3 linked regions of the Homo sapiens genome follow. The protein of the gene in region 1 interacts with the protein of each later gene in a biochemical or structural test. Each region holds a gene or a part of one and is shown on either strand. Other genes may lie near its edges.

Evidence for each region.
Region 2: of the proteins of ARIH2 (region 1) and APOBEC3F, one has a biochemical effect on the other in vitro, tested with the Homo sapiens proteins (one study listed by BioGRID).
Region 3: of the proteins of ARIH2 (region 1) and APOBEC3G, one has a biochemical effect on the other in vitro, tested with the Homo sapiens proteins (2 studies listed by BioGRID).

What each region holds. Positions count from the first base shown.
Region 1 is NC_000003.12:48,969,786-48,979,061, forward strand, and holds part of ARIH2 (E3 ubiquitin-protein ligase ARIH2), read left to right. Parts: intron 1-809; coding exon 810-919; exon of another isoform or gene 920-1,056; intron 1,057-3,913; coding exon 3,914-4,031; intron 4,032-4,879; exon of another isoform or gene 4,880-5,031; coding exon 5,032-5,082; intron 5,083-5,172; coding exon 5,173-5,194; coding exon of another isoform or gene 5,195-5,263; intron 5,264-9,276.
Region 2 is NC_000022.11:39,049,826-39,057,710, forward strand, and holds the end of APOBEC3F (DNA dC->dU-editing enzyme APOBEC-3F), read left to right. Parts: intron 1-2,248; coding exon 2,249-2,528; intron 2,529-2,751; coding exon 2,752-2,870; 3' UTR 2,871-6,147; downstream 6,148-7,885.
Region 3 is NC_000022.11:39,079,237-39,088,512, forward strand, and holds the end of APOBEC3G (DNA dC->dU-editing enzyme APOBEC-3G), read left to right. Parts: intron 1-1,696; coding exon 1,697-1,991; intron 1,992-2,234; coding exon 2,235-2,349; coding exon of another isoform or gene 2,350-2,353; exon of another isoform or gene 2,354-3,939; intron 3,940-4,494; coding exon 4,495-4,648; intron 4,649-7,042; coding exon 7,043-7,331; intron 7,332-7,774; coding exon 7,775-7,890; intron 7,891-8,170; coding exon 8,171-8,185; 3' UTR 8,186-8,507; downstream 8,508-9,276.

The DNA.
Region 1 (9,276 bases):
AATTTATGGTCTGGGTCTTGTCATGCACATGCCGCAGGATAAACAGAAGGCCTTGTTCTTTATGCTGTTTGCTGCCTTTGAGGGTCATTGAGCTCCTCAGATATATGTTTTTTTTTTTTTTTTGAGATGGAGTCTCACTCTGTCACCGAGGCCGGAGTACAGGGACACGATCTCAGCTCAATGCAACCTCTATCTCCCAGGTTCAAGCGATTCTGCAGCCTCAGCCTCCTGAGTAGCTGAGGTTACAAGCTCGCGCCACCACACCCAACTAATTTTTGTGTTTTTTAGTAGAGACAGGGTTTCACCATGTTGGCCAGGCTGGTCTCAAACTCCTGACCTCAGGTGATCCACCTGCCTCGGCCTCCCAAAGTGCTGGGATTACAGGCATGAGCCACCGCGCCCGGCCTTGTTATTTTTTATTTTTTTCAGAGACAGAGTTTCACTGTCATCCAGGCTGGAATGCATCGGTGCAATCAGCTCACTGCAGCCTGAAATTTCAGGCCTCAAGCAGTCTTCCCACCTCAGCCTCCTGAGTAGCTAGGACTATAGGCAGGAGCCACTATGCCTGGTGCAATTCTATATAAACTTAGATCATTCCAGTGAGTTGCTACCTGGTTTAAGCTAAACGTTCTAAATTCCTCTTTAATATCTGGCTTACGTTTGGTCTTCACATCCTTTCTGAATTTATATAGCCCCTTCGTATAAGTCATCAGCTGGGAGAACAGAAAGTGTTTGAATATTCAGGGGGTTCTGATTTTTAGACAGCAACTAAGAGATGTCCTCATTGTTTCCTCTTGGTGTGTTCACAGAGTCATTACCAGCTCCAGCTGTGCCCTGGTGCAGACTGCCCCATGGTTATTCGGGTACAGGAGCCTAGAGCTCGCCGAGTACAGTGCAATCGGTGCAACGAGGTCTTCTGGTAAGAGTGAGTGTGAGTGCTGAGCAGCCCTGGGCTCATGCCCCATCCTCCAAAGCACCACTGCTGTTGCTCCATGTGAGGGCGGCACTGGAAGAGGCAGGGTCTCTGAGCCAACAGAACAGCTGTGCTCCAAGTGGGTAGGTTTATGTCCAGCATCTCATATTCCACTAGGTCTTCAATACATGCTCAGTCTGGAGGCAAGGAAGTGACACAGGTTCTTGGAAAATGTGTTGTGGCTTATGCTACTAGGTCTCATGGCCCAGAGATTGTGTGGGATGTATCTGCCTGCATAGCTAATCACATATTACTGTGTTTGAAAGATATAAACTTGAACATTTTAATCTTTCTCTGTCTTGGCCTTACTTGGCTAATTTTTGTTAAACTAAGTCATAAATATATTCTACATCTACTCAAGGTTCACTTCATTCAGTAGATACCATGGGAATAACTAAAGTTTACCGAAGGCTTACCAGGTGACAGGCACTATCCTGATCACTTACCCTGCATTATCACAACTGTATATGACCCTTATATTCTCTCTTTTTTTGTTGTTTTCTTGAGACGGAGTCTTTCTCTGTAGCCCAGGCTGGAGTGCAGTGGCACATACTTGGCTCACCACAACCTCCGCCTTCCAGGTTCAAGTGATTCTCCTGCCTCAGCCTCCTGAGTAGCTGGGACTACAGGCATGTGCCACCATGCCCAGCTAATTTTTGTATTTTTAGTAGAGACAGGGTTTCACTGTGTTGGCCAGGCTGGTCTCAAACTCCTGACCTCGTGATCTGCCCGCCTTGGGCTCCCAAAGTGCTGGGATTACAGGATTGAGCCAACCGCGCCTAGCCATGACCCTTATATTCTATGAATAAATCAAGGTACAAGGTAAACCTAGTAAATCGTAGAGCCATAATTTAGGCCCAGATCTGTCCTAATCATACCTCCCTGGAATATTCATGGTGGGGCTTCAGAGAAACTACATGGAAAATGTGATGTGTGTGTGTACGCACATGCCTGCATTTCAAGACATTATTGACACCAAAGGTTAAGAATCACTAATGCAGTGGTTCTTTCATTTTAAATCCGGCAGCCCCCAGGATCACAGCAGATTCAGAAGACTCCTTGTAATTGTTCTTTATCCTTGTGTCCCACTTTATGAAATTCTTTCCCTGGGTATTTGCCTGAGGGCCTTTTCTAGCCACAAAGTACTGTTGGCCTCCACAAAAGAAAATTTCAAAATATGGAAGCCTAGCCCGACGAATATTGGAGTGTCTTTTTTTTCTGTTTTAAGTTTCAGTGTCATCAGATGTATCATGACCCTACAGATTTTGCACGTTCTGGCATTTGTGCATTCTTGTGTGCATATCTGACTGGGAGATCCGATGAGACTCCCGGAAGTGGGTCTCAATCCTGCCTTAGGTCTGAGCTAAGGAGTCCTTCTCAGAGCACCTCACCATGCCCTTTGAGAGTCATAGCTCTGTGTTTGACATCTTGGGAGTTGGTAAACAAGATGTTTAAACAAGGTATTTAACATACATATCATAGCTCACTGCAGCCTCAAACCCCTGGGATGAAGTGATCCTTCTGCCTTAGCCTCCCAAGTAACTGAAACTACAGATGCCCAGCTAATTTTTTTAAATTTGTTGTAGGGGCCAAGTGTGGTGGCTCACACCTGTGACCCCAGCTTTAGGACCCCTGTGACTTTAGGAGACTGAGGCGGGTGGATCACCTAAGGTCAGGAGTTCCAAGACTAGCCTGGCCAACATGGTGAAATCATGTCTCTACTAAAGATACAAAAATTAGCCAGGAATAGTGGCAGGAGCCTGTAATCTCAGCTAGTCAGGAGGCTGAGGCAGGAAAATCACTTGAACCAGGGAGGCAGAGGCTGCAGTGAGCCAAGATCATGCCATTGCACTCCAGCCTGGGTGACAAGAGCGAAACTCCATTTCAGAAAAAAAATTGTAGAGACAGGGTCTTCCTATGTTGCCTAGGTTGGTTGGTCTCAAACTCCTGGTCTAAAGCAATCCTTTTTTTAAAAAACAGGGTCTCTCTCAGTTGTCCACGTTGCAGTACAGTGATGCGAACACAGCTCACTGCAGCCTTGACCTCCAGAGCTCAGGCAAATCCTCCTGCCTTAGACTCTCTAGTAGCTGGGACTACAGACACATAGCACTACACCTGGCTAATTTTTTCATTTTTTGTAGAGATGGGATCTCACCATATTGCCCAGGCTGGTTTCAAACTCCTGGGCTCAAGCAGTCCTCCCATCTCAACCTTCCATAGTGCTAGGATTACAAGCATGAATCACTGCACTCGGCCTACAGAAATATTTTATTTGTGCGTGTTAGAGCATGTCTTACAAAGGCTTAAGTTGAAGAGACATTCATGCAGTATTTCAGTATAACTCTGGGTAGGTAAAGGTTCCACAAGCCTTGAGAGATAACTTTACCTATTTGAAAAGCTCTAGGCCGGGCACAGTGGCCCACGCCTGTAATCCCAGCACTTTGGGAGGCTGAGGCGGGCAGATCTCGAGGTCAAGAGATCAAGACTATCCTGGCCAACATGGTGAAACCCCATCTCTACTAAAAATACAAAAATTAGACTGGGCGCGGTGGCTCACGCCTGTAATCCCAGCACTTTGGGAGGCCGAGGTGGGTGGATCACGAGGTCAGGAGATCGAGACCATCCTGGCTAACACGGTGAAACCCCGTCTCTACTAAAAATACAAAAAATTAGCCGGGCATGGTGGCGGGCACCTGTAGTCCCAACTACTCGGGAGGTTGAGTCAGGAGAATGGCATGAACCCGGGAGGCAGAGCTTGCAGTGAACCGAGATCACGCCACTACACTCCAGCCTGGCGACAGAGCAAGACTCTGTCTCAAAAAAAAAAAAAAAAAGAAAAAAGCTCTAATTCATGATTTGTTGGCTTGGATAAAAGGAAAATTTTGAACATGGGACCCTGACTTAATGAATATTTGAATGTTTTTCTTTTCCAATTTTAAGTTTCAAGTGTCGTCAGATGTATCACGCACCCACAGACTGTGCCACAATCCGGAAATGGCTCACGAAGTGTGCAGACGACTCTGAAACAGCCAACTACATTAGTGCTCACACTAAAGACGTAAGGACCGTATTTTACCTCTCATGGATTTGCCCTCCTTAGTGCTGCCCAGGGCCTTGCCTTGGAGATTTGCCATCTGAGAGCAGAATACCCAGAGCCCCAGGACCCTTCCTGAGGACTGGGGGTTTGGGGACCCTCACACAGAGTTGGCAGCTCGTAGCAGTTTATTATAGGATGCATTGGGTGCATATTTTCTTTATTATGATGAAATGCCAAAATGCCAGGAAAGGGGGACCCAAAGGGGGAGCTAATTAGAAGAGAACTAATTATGATTGAACGCCTACCAGCCTTTAACAGCCCTGAAAGGGAGGTGGTTAATAGCCACACTTGATACATATAAGGCTGTAATGCAAGCCCAGACCTGCACGATACTCATTTTGAAGTCTCCCATGGGAAAGTATGGCCTGTGGGCTCTAGGGGCCACTGTACCCTTTGTCAGTCACTCGCCGAGTCAGTGCACTCACAAGCACAGTTACGATAACGACATTATTAAACATAGTCGACTTCACGGCAGTGGGAGATCACAGCATCAGACTGGTGTCTTCATTGCTGCCTCAGGTTGCTGGCATCTCTCAAATGGGAGAGATGAGCTTTAGATGTGGTTTCCTTGCCCTCTTCTCGAAGCAGAAGTTCAGGCAAGCTGACCAGGACTGAATCCATTGTGGCAGCTCCTGTGCTTCTTTGGCAGTCCTCTCAAGAAGGCAGGCTTTCTGCTGATTCAACTTGTGCTTAATCTGAGTAGCTTCATGGCAGGGGCAGATGGTGGAAGACTTAGTGGGGTTCAGCTGGTGCTTGAAGCATTTCAAAGCTAAATGTGCTGACCTCATTTCCTTGAATTGCTGTTCCAGCCTCAGCGACCTGCCACATTTAAGTGAGGTGCTCCTCCCCAGAAGTGCTCACACCATGAGCAACTGGGCACAGGTGCCAGGAGCTTTGTGTAATTTGTCTTAAAACCAACCTGGTGGTGTGTGAGCCTAATGGCACCCTTCTGTCTCCTCAGTGTCCCAAGTGCAACATCTGCATTGAGAAGAATGGAGGCTGCAATCACATGGTGAGCAGAAGCCTCTGCAGTTTGCATGTGTGACATGGAAGCTTTGGTCAGTGTGCCCTTAACGTGTTTTCTTCTGTTTCCCTCTGACAGCAATGCTCCAAATGTAAACACGGTGAGTTCCAAGCTTGGTGTGTAAGGCCCAGTGGCACTTTCTTGTGGTTGGGTCTCCGTTACTATTTAAGTGAGTACTTCTGCCATGAAATGACAAAACATAGAAGAACCTCAGTCACTTAACAGTCACAGTAACTGGCATAAAGTAGCTTTTTATTTTTATTTTCTGTTTTTTGGTCCCTCTTATAATCCCACTGCTATCTTGCTAACACATATAGTCAGAAGTCAAGTTTGGGATAAACCTCATGATCCTCAGTTATCCAAGAAGATGATTTCAGGGTGTTGCTTTCATTTTTTTGCCAAGGCAGGTAAGTAGCTTGGGGCTTATCTGTGCTACGTTGTAGATACCTTTACCAGAAGTAGTAAAATAATGGTTTTCCCTTGCCGTTTTACAAAGTTTCTAGTGGGGGTTTTGATTTAGCCTTTCAGACCTCCTTCATCCATCAGGAATAATTTACATAGCTAGAACCCATGTATGCCATCCGGCCAGGTCAACTGAAGAAACAGAATCCCTTCAAGTAGAAAATATGTCCAAGTGGGTCTTCTACGCAGCTGCTTTGATGCTCAACAGGAGCCCCTGACAGTTTCTTTTTTTTTTTTTTGGGAGAAGGAGTCTCACTCTGTCACCCAGGCTGGAGTGCAGTGGCGCAGTCTTGGCTCACTGCAACCTCCATCTCCTGGGTTCAAGCAGTTCTCCTGCCTCAGCCTTCCAAATAGCTGGGATTACAGGCATCTTCCACCACGTCTGGCTAATTTCTGTATTTTTAGTAGAGATGGGGGTTTGCCATGTTCGAGGCTGGTCTCGAACTCCTGACCTCAGGTGATCTCCCTACCTTGGCCTCCCAAAGTGCTGGGATTACAGGAGTGAGCCACTGTGCCCGACCGAGAATTTTGCTTTGTAAGGGCCTATGCAAATGCTATTTCCAGGAACCCTCTTTTCTTTATTTTTTGAGACAGAGTCTCAGTCTGTCGCCCAGGCTGGAGTGCAGTGGTGTGATCTTGGCTGACTGCAACCTCCACCTCCTGGGTTTAAGCAGTTCTCCCACTTCAGCCTCCTGAGTAGCTGGGATTACAGGCACTCACCACCACACCTGGCTACTTTTTTATATTTTTAGTAGAGACGGGGTCTAACCATGTTAGCCAGGCTGGTGTCCAACTCTTGACCTCAGGTGATCCGCCTACCTTGGCCTCTTAAAGTGCTGGGATTATAGGCATGAGCCACCGAGCCTGTACTTTTTTTTTTTTTTTTCCAAAGATGGAGTTCTGCTCTTGTCGCTCAGGCTGGAATGCAATGGTGTGATCTTGGCTCAATGCAACATCTACCTCCTGGGTTCAAGCGATTCTCACTCCGCCTCCCCAGTAGCTGCTATTACAGGCGCCCACCACCACACCTGGATAATTTTTATATTCTTAGTATAGATGCGGTTTCACCATGTTGGCCAGGCTGGTCTCGAACTTCTGACCCCAGGCAATCCGCCTGCCTCGACCTCCCAAAGTGCTGGGATTACAGGTGTGAGCCACCGCTCCCGGCCCCAGGAGCCCTCTCAATCAGAGTGGTCATGCCAGGATCTTAGACAGCAACATTGACTCTGCAGTGCCAAACGAAGATAGGCCATGGGTAGTGGCATATTTCTTCTGTGGGGCCACATTCTTTCGCTCTCTTTTTCTTTGTATATATCAGAGAGAGAAGTGTATCATACACTTAGAACAATGCAGAAGACACAGAGTTTAAAGAATAATGACAAACATCCCAGCACCCACCACATTCCTAGTGCCTAAGAAGCCCCCTGGGTGTCCATATCCCTTGACACCCAGAGTTCACTGCCATCTCACGAGAATCACTTGAACCCCGGAGGTGGAGGTCACAGTGAGCCGAGATTGTGCCACTGAACTCCAGCCTGGGCGATAGAGCGAGACTCTGTCTCAAAAAAAAAAAAACTGGCTGGGCGCGGTGGCTCACGCCTGTAATCCCAGCACTTTGGGAGGCCGAGGTGGGCGGATCATGAGGTCAGGAGATCGAGACCATCCTGGCTAACATGGTGAAACCCCATCTCTACTAAAAAAAAATACAAAATTAGCCAGGCGCAATGGCGCACTCCTGTAGTCCCAGCTATTCGGGAGGCTGAGGCAGGAGAATCGCTTGAACCAGGGAGGTGTAGGTTGCAGTGAGCCAGGATCGCACCACTGCACTCCAGCCTGGGCAACAGAGTGAGACTCCGTCTCAAAAACAAACAAACAAACAAAAAACTGCCATCTCTTTCTTTGCTGTATGTTTTATACCACCTATATGGGCAACCGTAGGGAATGTGGTTTTTTGTTTTGTTTTGTTTCGTTTTTTGAGATGGAGTCTCACTCTGTCACCCAGGCTGACAGGCTGAGTGCAGTGGTGCGATCTCGGCTCACTGCAACCTCCACCTCCCAGGTTCAAGCAATTATCCTTGCTCGGCCTCCTGAGTAGCTGGAACTGCAGGCACATGCCACCATACCCAGCTAATTTTTGACAGAGTCTCACTCTGTCGCCTGGGCTAGAGTGCAGTGGTGCGATCTCGGCTCACTGCAACCTCCGCCTCCTGGGTTCAAGCGATTCTCCTGCCTCAGCCTCCCAAGTAGCTGAGATTACAGGCGTCCGCCACTATACCCAGCTAATTTTTTGTATTTTTGGTAGAGACGGGGTTTCACCTTGTTGGCCATGCTGGTTGTGAACTCCTGATCTCATGATTAGCCCACCTTGGCCTCCCAAAGTGCTTGGATTACAGGCGTGAGGCACCGTGCCCGGCCTGTATTGTTCTTTAAAATGGTAGCAAGCACACCTAGCTAATTAAGGAGAGGGCATTGTTGCCACTATTAGGTGAAGGCTCCCAGGAGGAGAAAAATTGAACAACCTCTGGGTCTCCGGGTTTTGCTTTGGCTTCCCTAAAATGATTCAAGAGCCTCATTTTTGGGGAAGTCAGTAAGCCAAGTTATCCCTGGAGAGTGAATCCTGGGAAACAGGATTTACCATTGTCAGGGTCTGGAAGAGGCAGAATAGGCCAGATATAAAATCTAATAAGGTATTATTAGAACAATGTGTGTTCTAGACAACCAGGAGGACTTCAGACAAGTTTTGCTTCTCATAGCAGCCTTGACACAGATATAACAAGGCACATAGCCCATGTGCTCATGGAATGCAGAATATCAACAGGCCATTGTTCATCCAACAAAACTGTGGTTGGCTTCTCTCCATTAGACTGCAGTAATTCTTTGAGCATCTAACAATAATTTTTTGAACATATAGGGGATTTTTTTTTTTTTTTTTGAGACACAGTCTCGCTCTGTCACCTAGGCTGGAGTGCAGTGGTGTAATCTCGGCTCACAACCTCCGCCCTACAGGTTCAACCAGTTCTCGTGCTTCAGCCTCCCAAGTAGCTACTGGCATGTGCCACCACACCTGGCTAATTTGTGTATGTGTGTGTGTGTGTGTGTGTGTGTGTGTGTGTGTGTGTGTGTGTATATATATATATATATATTTTTTTTTTTTTTGGTAGAGACGGGTGTTTCACCATGTTGGCCAGGCTGGTCTCAAATTCCTGACCTCAGGTGATCCATCCGCCTTGGCCTCCCAGAGTGCTGGTATTACAGGTGTGAGCTACCGCAAAAGCAGAATCATAATTCTGATTATGAACCATTGGATAGCTCTAGGTTTTATAGAAATGTGTTATTTGCCAGGCGCAGTGGCTCACGCCTATAATCCCAGCACTTTGAGAGGCAGAGATGGGCGAATCACTGAACACTGGGGGTTCTCGAGACCAGCCTGGCCAACATGGTGAAACCCCATCTCTACTAAAAATACAAAAATTAGCCAGCATGTTGGCAGGCACCTGTAGTCCCAGCTACTCGGGAGGCTGAGGCAAGAGAATCGCTTGAACCTGGGATGCAGAGGTTGCAGTAAGCCAAGATCGCGCCACTGCACTCCAGCCTGGGTGACAGAGTGAGACTCTGTCTCAAAAAAAAAAAGAAAAAGAAAAATAAGAAATGTGTTTTTTAAAATAGAAGAAAAAGGGGGAAAGCCTTTATTCTTAGTTTCATATACAAAAATCTTTCTAG
Region 2 (7,885 bases), on another chromosome or scaffold:
AGTAGCTGGGATTACAGGTGCCCACCACCACACCCAGCTAATTTTTATTCCATTTTTAGTAGAGACGGGGTTTCACCGTGGTGACCAGGCTGGTTTCGAATTCCTGACCTCAAGTGATCCGCCCCCCTCGGCCTCCCAAAGTGCTAGGATTACAGGCATGAGCCACCACGCCCAACTTCCTCCCACATTTTTTAAGTCCGTGGCCCAGATCTTCCTCCCTAACTTTCCTGGGATCAGATTGTCGAGGGGTTTTGCCTCTTACCAAAAGGCCTTGTTTAGCGCCCAGCGCCCTCACTCTTGACTTTGTTTCCCAAAATCTTGTCATGGAGCTGTGCGTCCGGCAGTCCTCGGGAAACAGCAGCTGTGGGAAGCGGTGGGTCTGGTGTCCAGCACTGTGCCTGGGCCAGTCACTGTGGGCTGGTGGGGCCGCCCCCGCCACTGCCCTGATTCCTCGATGTCAAGGACACATCCTCACAGGGTGGTGAACCCTCGCTCCTCACCCTGCCGCCCCCACAGCAGCCACTGACCTCCCACCCACCCTGTCGTGTCCCACCCAACCCTGCGGCCCCCTCCTCCCAGGCAGGAGATTTTTTCAGAGTGTGTTTGGGGAGGGAGCCGTCTGTGTGCTGGGCAGGCCTGGCCTACAGCAGTGCTGGCCTCGGAAACACCCAGGACTCAGGATGGAAGCGCGAGTGTTCCCAGTCCCCACACGCTAAAAAGGCGACAAGAACTTGTGGAAGAAATTTTAGTGTCTGCATTAGCTCAATTATCTCACATAGGATTTCAACATATACTTAATATAAAATGCCTCATGAGAGAGTTAAAGTTTGTCTATTCTCACAATGAGATTTTGAAATGCGCTGTGTATTTTACACGTGCCAACGTTTCTAATCAGAGCCCCATTTCAAGTGCTCAGTAGCCCCTTTGGCCAACCTTCAACTCCATGGGACAATGTGGGTCCAATGACCTTCCCAGCAGAAGGCAGACAGGGGACAAGGCAGACCCCATAGGACCAGGCCACAGCAGGGGCTGAGGATGCCCGGTTAACGGATGCCTGGGGAACAGGATGCCAGAAATCACACATGACCTATGATGAGACAGGAAAAGACTCAATAAAATAAAGAAGGAAGGGGCCGAGTGCAGTGGCTCACGCCTGTAATCCCAGCACTTAGCGAGGCTGAGGCGGGCGGATCATGAGGTCAGGAGTTTGACACCAGCCTGCCTAACATGGTGAAATCCCATCACTACTAAAACTACAAAAATTAGCCAGGCGTGGGGGTGTGCCCCTGTAGTCCCAGCTACTTGGGTGGCTTAGGCAGGAAAATCGCCTGAACCCAGGAGGCAGAGGTTGCAGTGAGCCGAGATCTTGCCACTGCCCCCCAGCCTGGGTGACAGAGCAAGACTCTGTCACTCAAAAAGATAAAGAGGAACGGCCAGGTGCAGTGGTTCACGCCTGTAATCTCAGCACTTTGGGAGGCCAAGGCGGGGGATCACGAGGTCAGGAGCTTGAAACCATGCTCGCTAACTCGGTGAAACCCCATCTCTACTAAAAATACAAAAAATTAGCCAGGCGTGGTGGCGGGCGCCTGTAGTCCCAGCTACTTGGGAGGCTGAGGCAGGAGAATGGCGTGAACCCCGGAGGCGGAGCTTGCAGTGAGCGGAGATCGCGCCACTGCACTACAGCATGGGTGACAGAGCGAGACTCAGTATCAAAAAAAAAAAAAAAGAAAGAAAAAGAAAAGAAAAAATAAAGAGCAAGGAGAAGGATGGAAGAAGGGAAATTCAATGAGTAAAAAGCCCTGGGGCCTAGTATGTACCCAAAAAAATGAGAAGTAAAGAAAATAAGGCCATGCATGTGGTTTATGCTCATAGTCGCAGAGTTTTGGGAGGGTGAGGCAGGAGGATGGCTTGAGCCCAAGAGTTCGAGATCAGCCTGAGCAACATGGTGAAACCCAGTCTCTACAAAAATTACAAAAAAATTAGGCAGGCGTGGTGGCACGCACCTGCAGTCCCAGCTAATCAGGAGGCTGAGGTGGGAAGATTCCTTGAGCCTGGGAGGTCAAGGCTGCAGTCAGCCCCAGATCGCACCACTGCACCCCAGCCTGGGCAACAGGAGAGACCCTGTCTCAAAAATAAATAAGGAAACGCCCTGGGGCTCCAGGCCCGCCCTCTGCTCCCATCGCCCCACCCCTGCACTCCTCCTGCTCCTAGTCTGAGCTCCCCTGCCCTCCTCCTCCTCCTTCCCCAGGTGGATCCTGAGACCCATTGTCATGCAGAAAGGTGCTTCCTCTCTTGGTTCTGTGACGACATACTGTCTCCTAACACAAACTACGAGGTCACCTGGTACACATCTTGGAGCCCTTGCCCAGAGTGTGCAGGGGAGGTGGCCGAGTTCCTGGCCAGGCACAGCAACGTGAATCTCACCATCTTCACCGCCCGCCTCTACTACTTCTGGGATACAGATTACCAGGAGGGGCTCCGCAGCCTGAGTCAGGAAGGGGCCTCCGTGGAGATCATGGGCTACAAAGGTGAGACGTTGGGGGGCTGAGGAGAGTGGGTGCGGGAGGGACAGCATGAGGGGCAGGTGTGTCTGCAATGCCGTGGGGCGGGGCAGTGTCCCGGGAAGCCTGCAGGGATGGCGCCAGTGTCCACTGCAACTGGCAGTCAGGAGACCTGGGCTTGGAGGGGAGGGCCCAGGGCTGGGAGAGAAGCCTGCTGGGCCCTCACTGCTTTCTCCTTGTTTTTTCTCAGATTTTAAATATTGTTGGGAAAACTTTGTGTACAATGATGATGAGCCATTCAAGCCTTGGAAAGGACTAAAATACAACTTTCTATTCCTGGACAGCAAGCTGCAGGAGATTCTCGAGTGAGGGGTCTCCCCGGGCCTCATGGTCTGTCTCCTCTAGCCTCCTGCTCATGTTGTGCAGGCCTCCCCTCCATCCTGGACCAGCTGTGCTTTTGCCTGGTCATCCTGAGCCCCTCCTGGCCTCAGGGCCATTCCATAGTGCTCCCCTGCCTCACCACCTCCTCTCCGCTCTCCCAGGCTCTTCCTGCAGAGGCCTCTTTCTGCCTCCATGGCTATCCATCCACCCACCAAGACCCTGTTCCCTGAGCCTGCATGCCCCTAACCTGCCTTTTCCCATCTCCCCAGCATAACCTAATATTTTTTTTTTTTTTTTGAGACGGAATTTCGCTCTGTCACCCAGACTGGAGTGCAATGGCTTGATCTTGGCTCACTGCAAACTCTGCCTACCAGGTTCAAGCGATTCTCCTGCCTCCGCCTCCCGAGTAGCTGGAATTACAGACGCCTGCCACCACGCACAGCTAACTTTTTTTTTTTTTGTATTTTTAGTAGTGACTGGGTTTCACCATGTTGGCCAGGCTGGTCTTGAACTCCTGACCTCAGGTGATCCGCCTATCTCAGCCTCCCAAAGTGCTGGGATTACAGGCGTGAGCCACTGGCCCGGCGGCACAACCAAATCTTATTAAACTCACCCTAGGCTGGCCGCGGTGACTCATGCCTATAATCCCCCAGCAATTTGGGAGGCAGAGGTGAGAGAATCGCTTGAGCCCAGGAATTCGAGACCAGCCTGGGCCACATGACAAAGCCCCATCTCTACAAAAAAATTACAAAAAAAAAAAAAACAGGTGTGGTGGCATGCACCTGTAGTTGAAGCTACTTGGAAGGATGAAGTGGGAGGATTGCTTGAGCCGGGGAGGTGGAGGCTGCAGTGAACTGAGATCACGTCACTGAACTCCAGTCTGAGCAACAGATCGAGACCCTGCCTGAAAATAAATCAATAAATAAACTCAACCGAAATGGGTATGAAAGTTGAAATGGGTATGTAAGTTGAAAACCAGAAGTTTTGAGAAACATCCTTTGTTAACTTTCATCCTACAAATTGGGTCATTCATGTCCTACGCAGCTAAAACAGAGCCCAGGAGCCAGGGAGGAAAAGCAGTCAGGCCACACACCATTGCTCCCAAAATGGACTTCTCTGCAAGCCTGACTCCTGAAACTGTGCATTGTACCCTGAAACCAGCTTTATCCATAGCTTCTGCAATAAATGGCTGTAAGTCTTGGACTCCTTGCTATAATCGCAGCTATTCAGCAATGGAACCTCCCAGTTCCCAACCCTTCCTAGTGCCCATGGGCTTTCCCATAGGACAAGAGAACATTTCTCCTTTTCTTTTTTTTTTTCTTTGAAATGGAGTCTCGCCCTGTCACCCAGGCTGGAGTGCAATGGTGCGGTCTCGGCTCACTGCAACCTCTGCCTCCCTTGTTCAAGTGATTCTCCTGTCTCAGCCTCCCGAGTAGCTGGGATTACAGGCGTCCACCACCAAACCAGGCTAATTTTTGTATTTTTCATAAAAACGGGTTTCATCATGTTTCCCAGGCTGGTCTTATTTTTATTTTATTTTTTGAGATGGAGTCTTGCTCTGTTGCCCAGGCTGGGGTGCAGTGGTGCAATCTGGGTTCACTGCAGCCTCTGCCGCCTGAGTTCAAGCTATTTTCCTACCTAAGCCTCCCAAGTAGCTGGGATTACATGCGCGTGCCACCACGCCTAGCTAATTTTTGTGTTTTTAGTAGAGACGGGGTTTCAACATCTTGACCAGGCTGGTCTTGAACTCCTGACCTCGTGATCCACCCGTCTCGGCCTCCCAAAGTGCTGGGATTACAGGCGTGAGCCACCTGGCCAGGCTTAGGCTGGTCTTAAACTCCTGACCTCAAGTGATCCAACCTCCTTGGCCTCCCAAATTGCTGGGATTGCTGGTGTGAGCCACAGCGCCTAGCCCATTTCTCCTTTTAATAGGACCTGTTGCTGTCTCTGTTCTCCCAACATGGTGAACACCACCCGGACTGCGTGTATGTCCCAAATTACAATTCTTTCTTTGCAAATGAAATGTGAAATTTAGAGGCCCTTCTCCACACTTTAAATTTGACTTGACATTTTCTAGGCAGATATAAGTTATTAGAGAATGAGATTCTCTATAAAAATGATCCCTTCATGCTGTGGCCTCCACAGAAGATGCCCTGGGCCAGGTGCCCACATGAATAATGCGGGCCACAGGCAGGCATTTATTTTCTCACAGATATGGAGGCTACAAGTCCAAGGTGGAGGGGTCGGCGGGGTTGTTTGCTCTGAGGCCGCTCCTCCTGGATGGCAGGGATCCCTTCTGGCTGTGTCCTCTGTGGCCTTTCCTCTATGAACCTGTACTGTACCTCTGGGGTCTCTCTGCTTCCAAATATCTTTTTTTTTTTTTTCAGACAGTTTTGCTCTTGTTTTCTAGGCTGGAGTGCAATGGCACAATCTCAGCTCACTGCAACCTCTGCCTTCCGAGTTCAAGCGATTCTCGTGCCTCAGCCTCCTGAGTAGCTGGGACTACAGGCGTGTGCCACCACGCCTGGCTAATTTTGTAGTTTTAGTAGAGACGGGGTTTCTCCATGTTGCTCAGGCTGGTCTTGAACTCATGAGCTCAGGCGATCCACTCTCCTCAGCCTCCCAAAGTGCTGGGATTACAGATATAAGCCACCATACACAACTTTTTTTTTTTTTTGAGATGGAGTTTCACTCTGTTGCCCAGGCTGGAGTGCTAAATAGCAGAATCACTGCTCACTGCAACCTCTGCCTGCTGGGTTCAAGCAATTCTCCCACCTCAGCCTCCTGAGTAGCTGGGATTACAGATGCCCAGAACCAATCTCTGCTAATTTTTCTATTTTTTAGTAGAGATGGGGTTTCACTGAGGAAGGAGACCACCTCTCTCATTGTCTCCTATTTCAGAAGGAAGCAAAAAGTTAGAAAGATGCAGAAGTAAGATCAATGGCCAGACTGTTTGGCGCTGCTACCTGGGCCTGGTAGTTAAAGATCAACTCCTGACCTGACCGCTTGTTTTATCTAAAGATTCCAGACATTGTATGAGGAAGCATTGTGAAACTTTCTGGTCTGTTCTGCTAGCCCCCACCACTGATGCATGTAGCCCCCCAGTCACGTAGCCCACGCTTGCACAATCTATCACGACCCTTTCACGTGGACCCCTTAGAATTGTAAGCCCTTAAAAGGGCCAGGGACTTCTTCAGGGAGCTCCAATCTTCAGATGCAAGTCTGTCAACGCTCCCAGCTGATTAAAGCCTCTTCCTTCCTAAAACTGGTGTCTGAGAGGTTTTGTCTGCAACCGTTCCTGCTACATCACCATGTACATTCCAGGCGAGGCTGGTCTCGAATTCCTGACGCCCACCTCTGCCTCCTAAAGTGCTGGGATTAAAGGCATGAGCCATGGCACCTGGTCGACCTTCTCCTTTATGGACCCCAGACAAATTAATTTGTGCCCACACTAGAGGTCTCATTTAAATTAATCATCTTGGTCGGGCGTGGTGGCTCACGCCTGTAATCCTAGCACTTTGGGAGGCTAAGGCAGGCAGATCACTTGAGGTCAGTGTCACACGTGTCCATGTGAAGAGACCACCAACAGGTTTTGTGTGAGCAACAAGGCTGTTTATTTCACCTGGGTGCAGGTGGGCTGAACCAGAAAAAGGAGTCAGCAAAGGGTGGTGGGATTATCATTAGTTCTTACAGGTTTGGGATAAACCTATCCCAAACCTATAAGTGTACATTCTTAAAGGCATACAAAGTACATTCTTAAGTGTGGGGGAGAATATTACAAAGTACCTTCTTAAGGGCAGGGGAGACTATATGGTATCAGTTGGGGTGGGGCAGGAACAAATCACAATGGTGGAATGTCATCAGTTAAGGCTATTTTCGCTTTTTTTTGTGGATCTTCAGTTGTTTCAGGCCATCTGGATGTATACATGCAGGTCACAGGGGATATGATGGCTTAGCTTGGGCTCAGAGGCCAGACATTCCTGTCTTCTTATATGAATAAGAAAAAACAAAATAGTGGTGAAGTGTTGGGGTGGCGAAAATTTTGGGGGGTGGTATGGAGAGATAATGGGCGATGTTTCTCATGGCTGCTTCAAGCGGGATTAGGGGCAGCGTGGGAACCTGTGGTGGGAGAGATTAAGCTGAAGAAAGATTTTGGGGTAAGGTGATATTTTGGAGTTGTTAGAAGGAGCATTTGTCGTATAGAATTATTGGTGATGGCCTGGATGCGGTTTTGTATGAATTGAGAAACTAAACGGAAGACACAAGGTCTGAATAAAAGAAGGAGAAAAATAGGTTGGTTTTTTTTTTTTTTTTTTTTTTTTGAGACAGAGTCTCGCTCTGTTGCCCAGGCTGGAGTGCAGTGGCACGATCTCGGCTCACTGCAACCTCTGCCTCCCTGGTTCAGACGATTCTCCTGCCTCAGCTTCCTGAGTAGCTGGGACTACAGGTGCACGCCACCACGCCCGACTAATTTTTTTGTATTTTTAGTAGAGAAGGGGGTTTCACCATGTTAGCCAGATGGTCTCAATCTCATGACCTCGTGATCCGTCCACCTCAGCCTCCCAAAGTGCTGGGATTACAGGCATGAGCCACCACACCCAGCCAGAAAAATAGGTATTAAAGGACTAAGAATTGGGAGTACCCAGAACATCTAATTAGACAGTGTCCAAGGGGGTTCAACATAATTATTTGCTTGGTTGGTGAGTTTTTGGCCTCTATCCTTGAATTTTTTTATGTTGTCATATACCTGTCCAGATTGATTTAGGTAAAAACAACACTCTTCGTTTAAAAATATACAGAGTCCTCTTTTTTTTAGCAGTGAGTAAGTCGATGCCTCGGCAATTTTGGAGGAAAGAGAAATGCAAAGCCAGCAATTGTTCATTTAAGAAGGATTAGAAATGGCTAAGAGAGAGTTTGATAGTGTGGTGGAGATAGCTGGGGAGAGGTAGAGGGTAGCATAAGAACGGAACCAGAATAAGAGTGAGTATAAAAGTAAAGAATAG
Region 3 (9,276 bases), on another chromosome or scaffold:
GGACCGTCCTGGGATCGGATCGTGGAGGGGGTTTGCCTCTGCACAAAAGGCCTTGTGTTTCCGTTTTTCTTTTCTTTTCTTTTTTCTTTTTTTTTTTTGAGACAGAGTTTCACTCTTGTTGCTCAGGCTGGAGTGCAATGACGCGATCTCGGCTCACAGCAACCTCTGCCTCCTGGGTTCAAGCGATGCTGTCGCCTCAGACTCGCAAGTAGCTGCGATTACAGGTGCCCACCACCACGCCCAGCTGATTTTTTTTTTGTATTTTTAGTACAGATGGGGTTTCACCATATTCACCAGGCTGGTCTCGAACTTCTGACCTCAGGTGATCCACCTGCCTCGGCCTCCCAAAGTGTTGGGATTACAGGTGTGAGCCACAGCGCCGGCCTAATTTTAATATTTAATTAATCCAATGTGGCTAACATATTACTTCAACATTAATTAACATAAAATTCTTGACAAGATAATGAAGTTTCTTTTTCTTGTCACACCGAGTCTTTGAAATGAGCTGCGTGGGTCACGTACAGTGGGTGGCTCGCACCTCTAATCCCAGCACTTTGGGAGGCCAAGGCGGGCAGATCACCTGAAGTTAGATATTCAAAACCGGCCTGGGCAACATGGTGAAATCCCATCTCTACTAAAAATACAAAAAAAAAAAAAATTAGCCAGGCATGGTGGCAGTCACCTGTAATCCCAGCTACTCGGGAGGCTGAGGCAGGAGAACCGCTTGATCCCATGAGGCAGAGGTTGTAGTGAGCCAAGATTGCATCCTTGCATTCCAGCCTGGGCAACAAGAGCGAAACTCCATCTCAAAAAAAAAAAAAGAAATGAGTGGTGTATTTTTCAGGTGCCCAGGTCTCTAATCAGAGCCCCATTTCAAGTACTCAGTAGTCCCTTGGCCATGTCACCCCCCCCGACATGGACAGTGCAGGTCCAGTGGGCTCCCCACTGACTGCAGGCAGGGAACAAGGCAGACCCTAGAGGGCCAGGCCACAGTAGGGGCTGAGGATGTCTGGTGAATGGATGCCTGGGAGAATGGATGCTAGAATTCACACACGAGGCCATGAACAGGGCTGGGAAAACTTCCAAACTCAGGGAAGCACGTGTCTTGGTGCACCTTGTGATGCTTCAACAGCAGGACTGAGATGGGGACATTTACAATGAACAGAAATGTATGGGCTCGAGTTCTGGACTCTGGGAAGTCCCCTGTCAATGCACCAGCAACTTTCCAGGGCCTGCGAGCTGCACAGTCACGTGGGGGTGAAGGTTGTTGCCAGAAGCTCAGGGGATGCTCCAGACAGAGTGGCCTGGGATGTCGAGTCACTGCTGCTCCGTGACATGGGGGCAAGAGGAAGCAGTTTAGTCTGACATACTGCCCCCCCAGCTAGAGGGCAAGAGACAGAAAGAGGGGCTGAAGTCGCCCTTGAATAACCACAGCAGTGGCACCCACAAAGGTGCAGTTCCCACAGCCTCATAGCTGCTTGTAGGTGCCACCTCTTAAGGCCATTACCATAGCAATTAATACTGAACATGAGCTTTGGAGCAGACAAACACTCAAACCGAACAGGGGGATGGAGGAAAGGAGCTTCAATGGCAAGATCTCCTGGACTCCTGTCCTGGCCCCTCCTCCCCCTGCCCCACCCCTGCTCTCCTCCTGCTCCCCCTCTCAGAGCTTGCCCTGACCCTGCTCCTCTCCCAGGTGTATTCCGAACTTAAGTACCACCCAGAGATGAGATTCTTCCACTGGTTCAGCAAGTGGAGGAAGCTGCATCGTGACCAGGAGTATGAGGTCACCTGGTACATATCCTGGAGCCCCTGCACAAAGTGTACAAGGGATATGGCCACGTTCCTGGCCGAGGACCCGAAGGTTACCCTGACCATCTTTGTTGCCCGCCTCTACTACTTCTGGGACCCAGATTACCAGGAGGCGCTTCGCAGCCTGTGTCAGAAAAGAGACGGTCCGCGTGCCACCATGAAGATCATGAATTATGACGGTGAGAAGTGGGAGGTTCAGGGGTGTGGGAGAGACTGCTTAAGTGTCTGTGATGGGTCCTTCCCACACATACCTGTGGGTCTGCTCTGATGCCTGCAAAGGCCAAGTGTCCCAGGGGAGCCTGTGGGGTTGGGTCTGGCGCTGACTGTAACTAGTATCTAGAATATGTCTGGGAGGGGAGGGTCCCGAGGTCACAGAAGAGAGGCCAGCTGGGCTTGACTGCGTTCTCTCTTCTTTTTCTTAGAATTTCAGCACTGTTGGAGCAAGTTCGTGTACAGCCAAAGAGAGCTATTTGAGCCTTGGAATAATCTGCCTAAATATTATATATTACTGCACATCATGCTGGGGGAGATTCTCAGGTGAGGGTCTCCCTCCAGGCTCATCGCCTCGCTCCTCTCACCTCCTGCTCATCCTCTTGAGGCCTCCCCTCTGTTCCAGACCAGGTCCTCTCCTGGCCAGGCCCTCCTGCCTTCCCTCCTGCCCCCTGCCTGCCCTCGTGGTTACACTCCCTCACCCACACTCCTCGTGCTCCCTCCACCTCCCTGCCTCCCACCTGCTTTCCTGGGCCCTTCCTGTGAGTGAGAGGCCCCTTCTGCCTCCAGAGCAACCTCCATCCACCCCCACAGCCTGGGAGCCCCAACCTGGCCCCTTCCATCTCCCTGGCATAACCGAATTTGTCGTAAAACTGGACGTAGTAAGTGGGCATGAATAGTCACAAGCCCGGCAGTCAGAAGCTTTGAGCAACATCCTTAAAGGCCAACCTGAGCCCCTGAGAAGGAGCTGCCTCCATGGAAACAGAGCTTCAGGCTTCGGCTGCCATAGAAGATGGCCGGGCTGGGTGCCCACAGGGCAGGCATTTATTTTCTCACACATCTGGAGGCTGCAAGTCCAAGGTGGAGGGGTGGGCGGGGTTGTGTCTTCTGCAGTCGCTCCTCCTGGCTGGCAGGGGGTCCCTTCCGGCCCTGTCCTCTCTGGCCTTTCCTCTGTGCACCTGCACTCGTGGGGTCTCTCTGCCTCCAAATGTCCTCCTCGTTTATGGACCCCAGTCATGTGAATTTGGGCCCACACTGAAGGTCTCATTTAAGTTAATCATCTGATGAAAGGACCTGTCTCCAGGCCAGGTGCAGAGGCTCATGCCTGTAATCCCAGCACTTTGGGAGTCCAAGGCGGGTGGATCACCTGAGGTCAGGAGTTCGACACCAGCCTGGCCAACATGTTAAAACCCCATCTCTACCAAAAATACAAAAATTAGCCGGGAGTGGTGGTGGGCGCCTATAATTCTAGCTACTCGGAAGGCTGAGGCAGGAGAATCGCTTGAACCCGGGAGGCGGAGGTTGCGGTGAGCCCAGACTGCGCCGCTGCACTCCAGCCTGGGCAAAAAAGCGAAACTTCTTCTCAAACAAACAAACAAGAAAGAAAGGACCTGTTTCCAAATACAGCCACCCTTTGAGGGAGCGGGGGTTAAGGCTTCAATACATTGATTTTGGGGAGAAACAGTGAAGGCCACGGCAAGAAGCTGCAGTCATTGTGGGCGGGCCTGGGTGGGGAGTGCAGGGGTTCCTGTCCTGTGTGTCTGTTTCCCAGGGGAGTCCTGACCTGACTCTCACAGCCCCTCCACCCAGATGTTCCTGTGTGCTTCACCCACCCCATTCCTTCTGCACCCAACACTCCTGAGCCCCTCCTTAGCTCCCCCGACAGGCTCCCCTGCTCCCCCACTCCCGGGCTGCTCCTCTTCTCAGCCTCTCTCTGGGCCTCTCTGGGGTCCGGACATGACCCCTCAGCTGATGCCTGTGGCTTCCCCAGCCAGAATCTTCCCAGTTCCAGGCTGGGCTCTGCAGAGTCCTATCAAAGGTGGCATCCTCCCCTCTGTCCACTCCAGGGTGAAGATCTGGTGTTTCTGGTTTGGAAATGCCTCTGCACTGGGTGCTAATAATTCACTTTTACCTTTATAATTGTGGTTTTGTAAGGACAGGTATTTTTGGCAACAGAAGAAATCCTGTGAGTTATTTAAAAAAAAACAAAAAAACTCCCTGGCAGGCTCTTCTCCCCGCTGGTCCCGCTCAGGAGTGTCTCTGCCCTGATGCTGGGTGTGGCAAGAGTTAACCCTGTAGGCAGGAGGGGTGCCCCAGTGGGTCCACCTCCAGCAAGGACTGAGAGCGAGCAGAGCCAGGACTGGGGTCTATGGTGAGGCCAGGGAAGAAGACCCAGCTGTACCCCAGGGAGAGGGCCTGAGCACACTGAGCTGACCCTGGGGAGACCCTGACAAGGCTTAGACAGGCCCCAGGGCTGCCGTGATCTCCCAGTGAGCCCCAGAAGGGGTCAGAGGGGGAGGTTTGGAGGCTCTAGCAAGTGAGTGGGAGCCCCTTCTGACAGGTGCTAAGGGATGTGGGGAGCCGGGGGAAGGAAGGAGGGTGGGGTGCAAGGGAGGAAGCGTGGAGAGGGAGGGGGAGGTGGGACAGACCAGGAGGGCTCTTACTCCTCTGGGCTTTTCCCCCACTTTCCAGACACTCGATGGATCCACCCACATTCACTTTCAACTTTAACAATGAACCTTGGGTCAGAGGACGGCATGAGACTTACCTGTGTTATGAGGTGGAGCGCATGCACAATGACACCTGGGTCCTGCTGAACCAGCGCAGGGGCTTTCTATGCAACCAGGTGACCAACCCAGCCACCCGCATCCAGGCAGGGCCCTCCCAACCCAGGGACACCCATGGGCAGAAGGTTCTGGGTGGTACCTGTGGTGTCCTGCAGAGTGTCTGTCACCTGTGCTTCCTGTAGCTGCTGCTGCTTGGCCCTGGGGTTGGGGGAGACTTCGGCTTCAGTGACTCTCCAGGATTGGTGGCTTCCAGCCCCACACGCCTAACCAGCCACATGTCTCAGGGGCTAACACCACTAGTCCAGAGTCACCCCCAGGTCCAGGTCTCAGCCGTCCCCACTCCTGCTGTGCTCTGAGAGGGTCAGGGCAGAGGAAAAGGGTCTGCACCAGGGCCAAGTGGGATCAAAGAAAAAGCGCTTCCGGCCGGGCACGGTGGCTCATGCCTGTAATCCCAGCACTTTGGGAGGCCGAGGCTGGCGATCACAAGGTCAGGAGATCAAGACCATCCTGGCTAACACGGTGAAACCCCATCTCTATTAAAAATACAAAAAATTAGCCAGGTGTGGTGGCAGGCGCCTGTAGTCCCAGCTATTCAGGAGACTGAGGCAGGAGAATGGCATGAACCTGGGAGGCAGAGCTTGCAGTGAGCCAAGATCGTGCCACTGCACTCCACCTGGGCAACAGAGCGAGACTCCGTCTCAAGAAAAAAAAAAAAAGTGCTTCCTGAGGACCCTCCCAGGATCCCCTCACAGACACAGCTCCCACCAGGAATGATTCAGAACTGTGGGATTTGAGGATCAGGGCCTACCTGACCTCACAAGGCCAGGATTCCCCAGTGCCTGCTCCTGGGCTTCATCCTGCGGGAAAAGAGACTGAGGCAGGAGAGGCCGACCAGGGATTCTGTCCTGACCAGGATGGAGCCCACAGCAAGGCCAGAACAGGCCCCAAGTCAGGATGCAGGGATGGCCAGCATTTGAAGAAGAGCTGGGCCAGGCCAGGCCGAGGGGCCCTGAGCCCGAGGGACGTTCTTCCCTCGCCCTTGCCCAGCACAGCCCCTGGCTGGAGAGGCCAAATTCTGCTTGGCTCTGGTGCTGGAAACGGGGTTCCTCTGGGCTCTATGAGCTTAATATGGGCCCTGCTGGGCCCACACACACTGCTTGGAAGCTACTTTCAAAGGCACCGGTCCCCATCACTGTCTAACCAGTGGGATGGGACTCCCCCAGGAATGACCCACAGCCCCTTCTCAGCACAAATCGTGTCATCCATTCTACCCCGAGTCCTCTCTGCACTGGACTCCTGGGCTTGACTAGTTCCCAGTCGAAATTTGGACAAAACACCATCATTCCTTGGGCTCAACAAGGACAATCACCCCATGACTGGGGCCCTTCCCAATGTGGGGTTAGTCCTGCTGGGGGCCCCTCATCCCCACTTCTCCCTGCAAAGGGAGCCCTCTGGCCTCAGTCTATGTCACTCGTGGGCTTAATACAGGGTAAAGCACAATGTGGAAGCTTCTAGAATTATAGGTCACAGAAGGGGTGGGGCAAGGGGAATTGACGGGTAGACAGGTCAGCCTCCCCATGAGGGAAGCACACGCAGCTCAGTGGCATCTGTCCTCCCTCCCCCAGCTCTACAGCCCCTCCCTGCAGGCCTGGGGCGGAGTGAGGGTCCTGAAGGCACTGACCTCATGTGCAGAATGAGAGGATGCTCCAAATACTCAGTATCAGAGAAATCTCATCGTAATGGAAAATTAAATTATTTAATAGATTATTGTAAAAATCCGGTCAGGTGTGGTGGCTCATGCCTGTAGTCTCAGCACTTTGGGAGGCTGAGGCGGGCAGATCACTTGAGGTCAGGAGTTCAAGACAAGCCTGGCCAATATGGTGAAACCCCGTCTCTACTGAAAATACAAAGATTAGCCAGGCGTGGTGGTGCATGCCTGCAGTCCCAGTTACTGGGGAGGCTGAGACACCAGAATCGCTTGAACCCGGGAGGTGGAGGTTGCAGTGAGCCAAGATGGCGCCACTGCACTCCAGCCTGAGTGACAGAACCAGACTCTGTCTCAAAGAAAAGAAAGGAAAAGAAAAGAAAAGTCATCTTGATAACTGGGGTTTGGTGCCCCCGTCTAATTTTGTGCTGGAGGCTGCCCCGCACCCACCCTGATCCAGGCTGTCCCTCCTGACTCACTAAAAATTCCCTCGGCCGGGCGCTGTGGCTCATGCCTGTAATCCCAGCACTTTGGGAGGCTGAGGAGGGCAGATCACCTGAGGTTGGGAGTTTGAGACCAGCCTGAACCACATGGAGAAACCCCTTTTCTACTAGAAATACAAAATTAGCCTGGTGTGGTGGTGCATGCCTGTAATCCTAGCTACTTGTACACTCCAGCCTGGGCAACAAGAGTGAAACTCTGTCTCAAAAAAAAAAAAGATTACCTCATGGCTTGCTTTCTTTTCTAGGCTCCACATAAACACGGTTTCCTTGAAGGCCGCCATGCAGAGCTGTGCTTCCTGGACGTGATTCCCTTTTGGAAGCTGGACCTGGACCAGGACTACAGGGTTACCTGCTTCACCTCCTGGAGCCCCTGCTTCAGCTGTGCCCAGGAAATGGCTAAATTCATTTCAAAAAACAAACACGTGAGCCTGTGCATCTTCACTGCCCGCATCTATGATGATCAAGGAAGATGTCAGGAGGGGCTGCGCACCCTGGCCGAGGCTGGGGCCAAAATTTCAATAATGACATACAGTGGTGAGAATGGAAGCCTGGAGTAGGATGGGGTCAGCCAGGGCAGGAGAGGGCCCCGGGAAGTTACTAGAAAGTGGGGAGGGTCGGCATCCCTGTGGGAAAGGCCTTGATCCTCTGCCTGCAGAGGCGATGGCTGCACTCTGGACCTGACTTTGGGGTCGACGGGAAGAGAGAGGCCAGGCCAGGAGATGTGGACCTGGGGAGGGCGGGGAGGGTGGCTGGAAGTGGAAGCAGAACTTGGGGCTTCCAGAAAAAATGAGAACTGGGCTGGCCCAGATTCCAATAGGAAAGAAGTGCCTGATGAAGGAGCTAAGTCCCTAGGGGAGGGAGAGGGAAAGGAGGGACTGAAACCAGGATGTGGGAAGTCTGTCTTGAGAGTCATGGGCCTTTGGTGCCACCACGATCCCACAGCGGGAGTGTGACTTATCTCCCCTGTCCCTTTTCAGAATTTAAGCACTGCTGGGACACCTTTGTGGACCACCAGGGATGTCCCTTCCAGCCCTGGGATGGACTAGATGAGCACAGCCAAGACCTGAGTGGGAGGCTGCGGGCCATTCTCCAGGTGAGGGCTTCTTCCCTCTGCCCAGTGCCCCATCGGCCTCCCCCTCCTCCCCTCTCCCCTGCGCCGTGCCTTCCCCTCTGCTCAGAGCCTCCTCTGGGTTCCCTGCTCCCCCAGGGCACCTGTCTCTGTCCCTCCCTTTCCTTCTCACAGCCTCCCTTTCTCTCCCACCTCCCACATCCCTCCCTCCTCTCCGATCATTGTCACTGTCCCCAGGCCTCCACCATATGCCTACTTTCCACTCGCTCACCCTTTGCTCCATTCAACCTCCCTGCTCTTCCAGAATCAGGAAAACTGAAGGATGGGCCTCAGTCTCTAAGGAAGGCAGAGACCTGGGTTGAGCCTCAGAATAAAAGATCTTCTTCCAAGAAATGCAAACAGGCTGTTCACCACCATCTCCAGCTGATCACAGACACCAGCAAAGCAATGCACTCCTGACCAAGTAGATTCTTTTAAAAATTAGAGTGCATTACTTTGAATCAAAAATTTATTTATATTTCAAGAATAAAGTACTAAGATTGTGCTCAATACACAGAAAAGTTTCAAACCTACTAATCCAGCGACAATTTGAATCGGTTTTGTAGGTAGAGGAATAAAATGAAATACTAAATCTTTCTGTATATGTTTCCCTGTGTGATTGTATCATGAATTGCAAGTGTTTCCATAAACACTAGCAAATGTGTAGATGTCTTTCCTTGTGTAGCGGACCTGTAGCCGGGAAAGGTCACACGACATCCCTCTGGAGCCAGAAAACTCAGCTAAACCTCACAGGAGAGGAACCTAAATGCAGACCCCACCCTCACTCACAGAGCCCCGCCCACTCTCACTCACAGAGCCCTGGGCGCTGATTGGAAGGGACAGGCCCAGCAGTAAGAGGACAGCCAGCAGCCAGTCTCCCTGTTGGAAAGGAACCACACACGTGCAGTCAGGGGCCCTCGGGAGCAGCCCTGTGTCCACCCCTTCCTGAGTCCACCTCCTAGAGAGGGAGCCCAGGGAAGGCCATGGCTGAGACCCAGGACAGGCCCAGTCAGGGGAAGGAGCCCAGGGAGCGGGCAGGTGTCCAGGCTGGGCCCAGAGAGAGGGCTGGGAAGAGGAGCAGCCCAGGAGGCAGAGCCCAGCCACAGAGGGGAGGGGAGCTGAGTCCCAGGGACAGGAGGCTCCAGAGGCAGAGACGGAGCCCAGGGCTAGGGCGGCAGGTGTCAGGGCTGTGGCTTCAGCTTGGTGTCTGTCCCGGGTGTTCTGCATTGGTTCCCGACTCTGGGATGTGTTATTTATGTGCCTGATTACAGCAGGTGGCTCCCACCTCACGATTTCTGGAAAGTCCTCAGAAGCTGCGTATAAGACCAAGAAGGGGCCTCACACGCAGCTGCTCCTGGGCAGAAACGACTC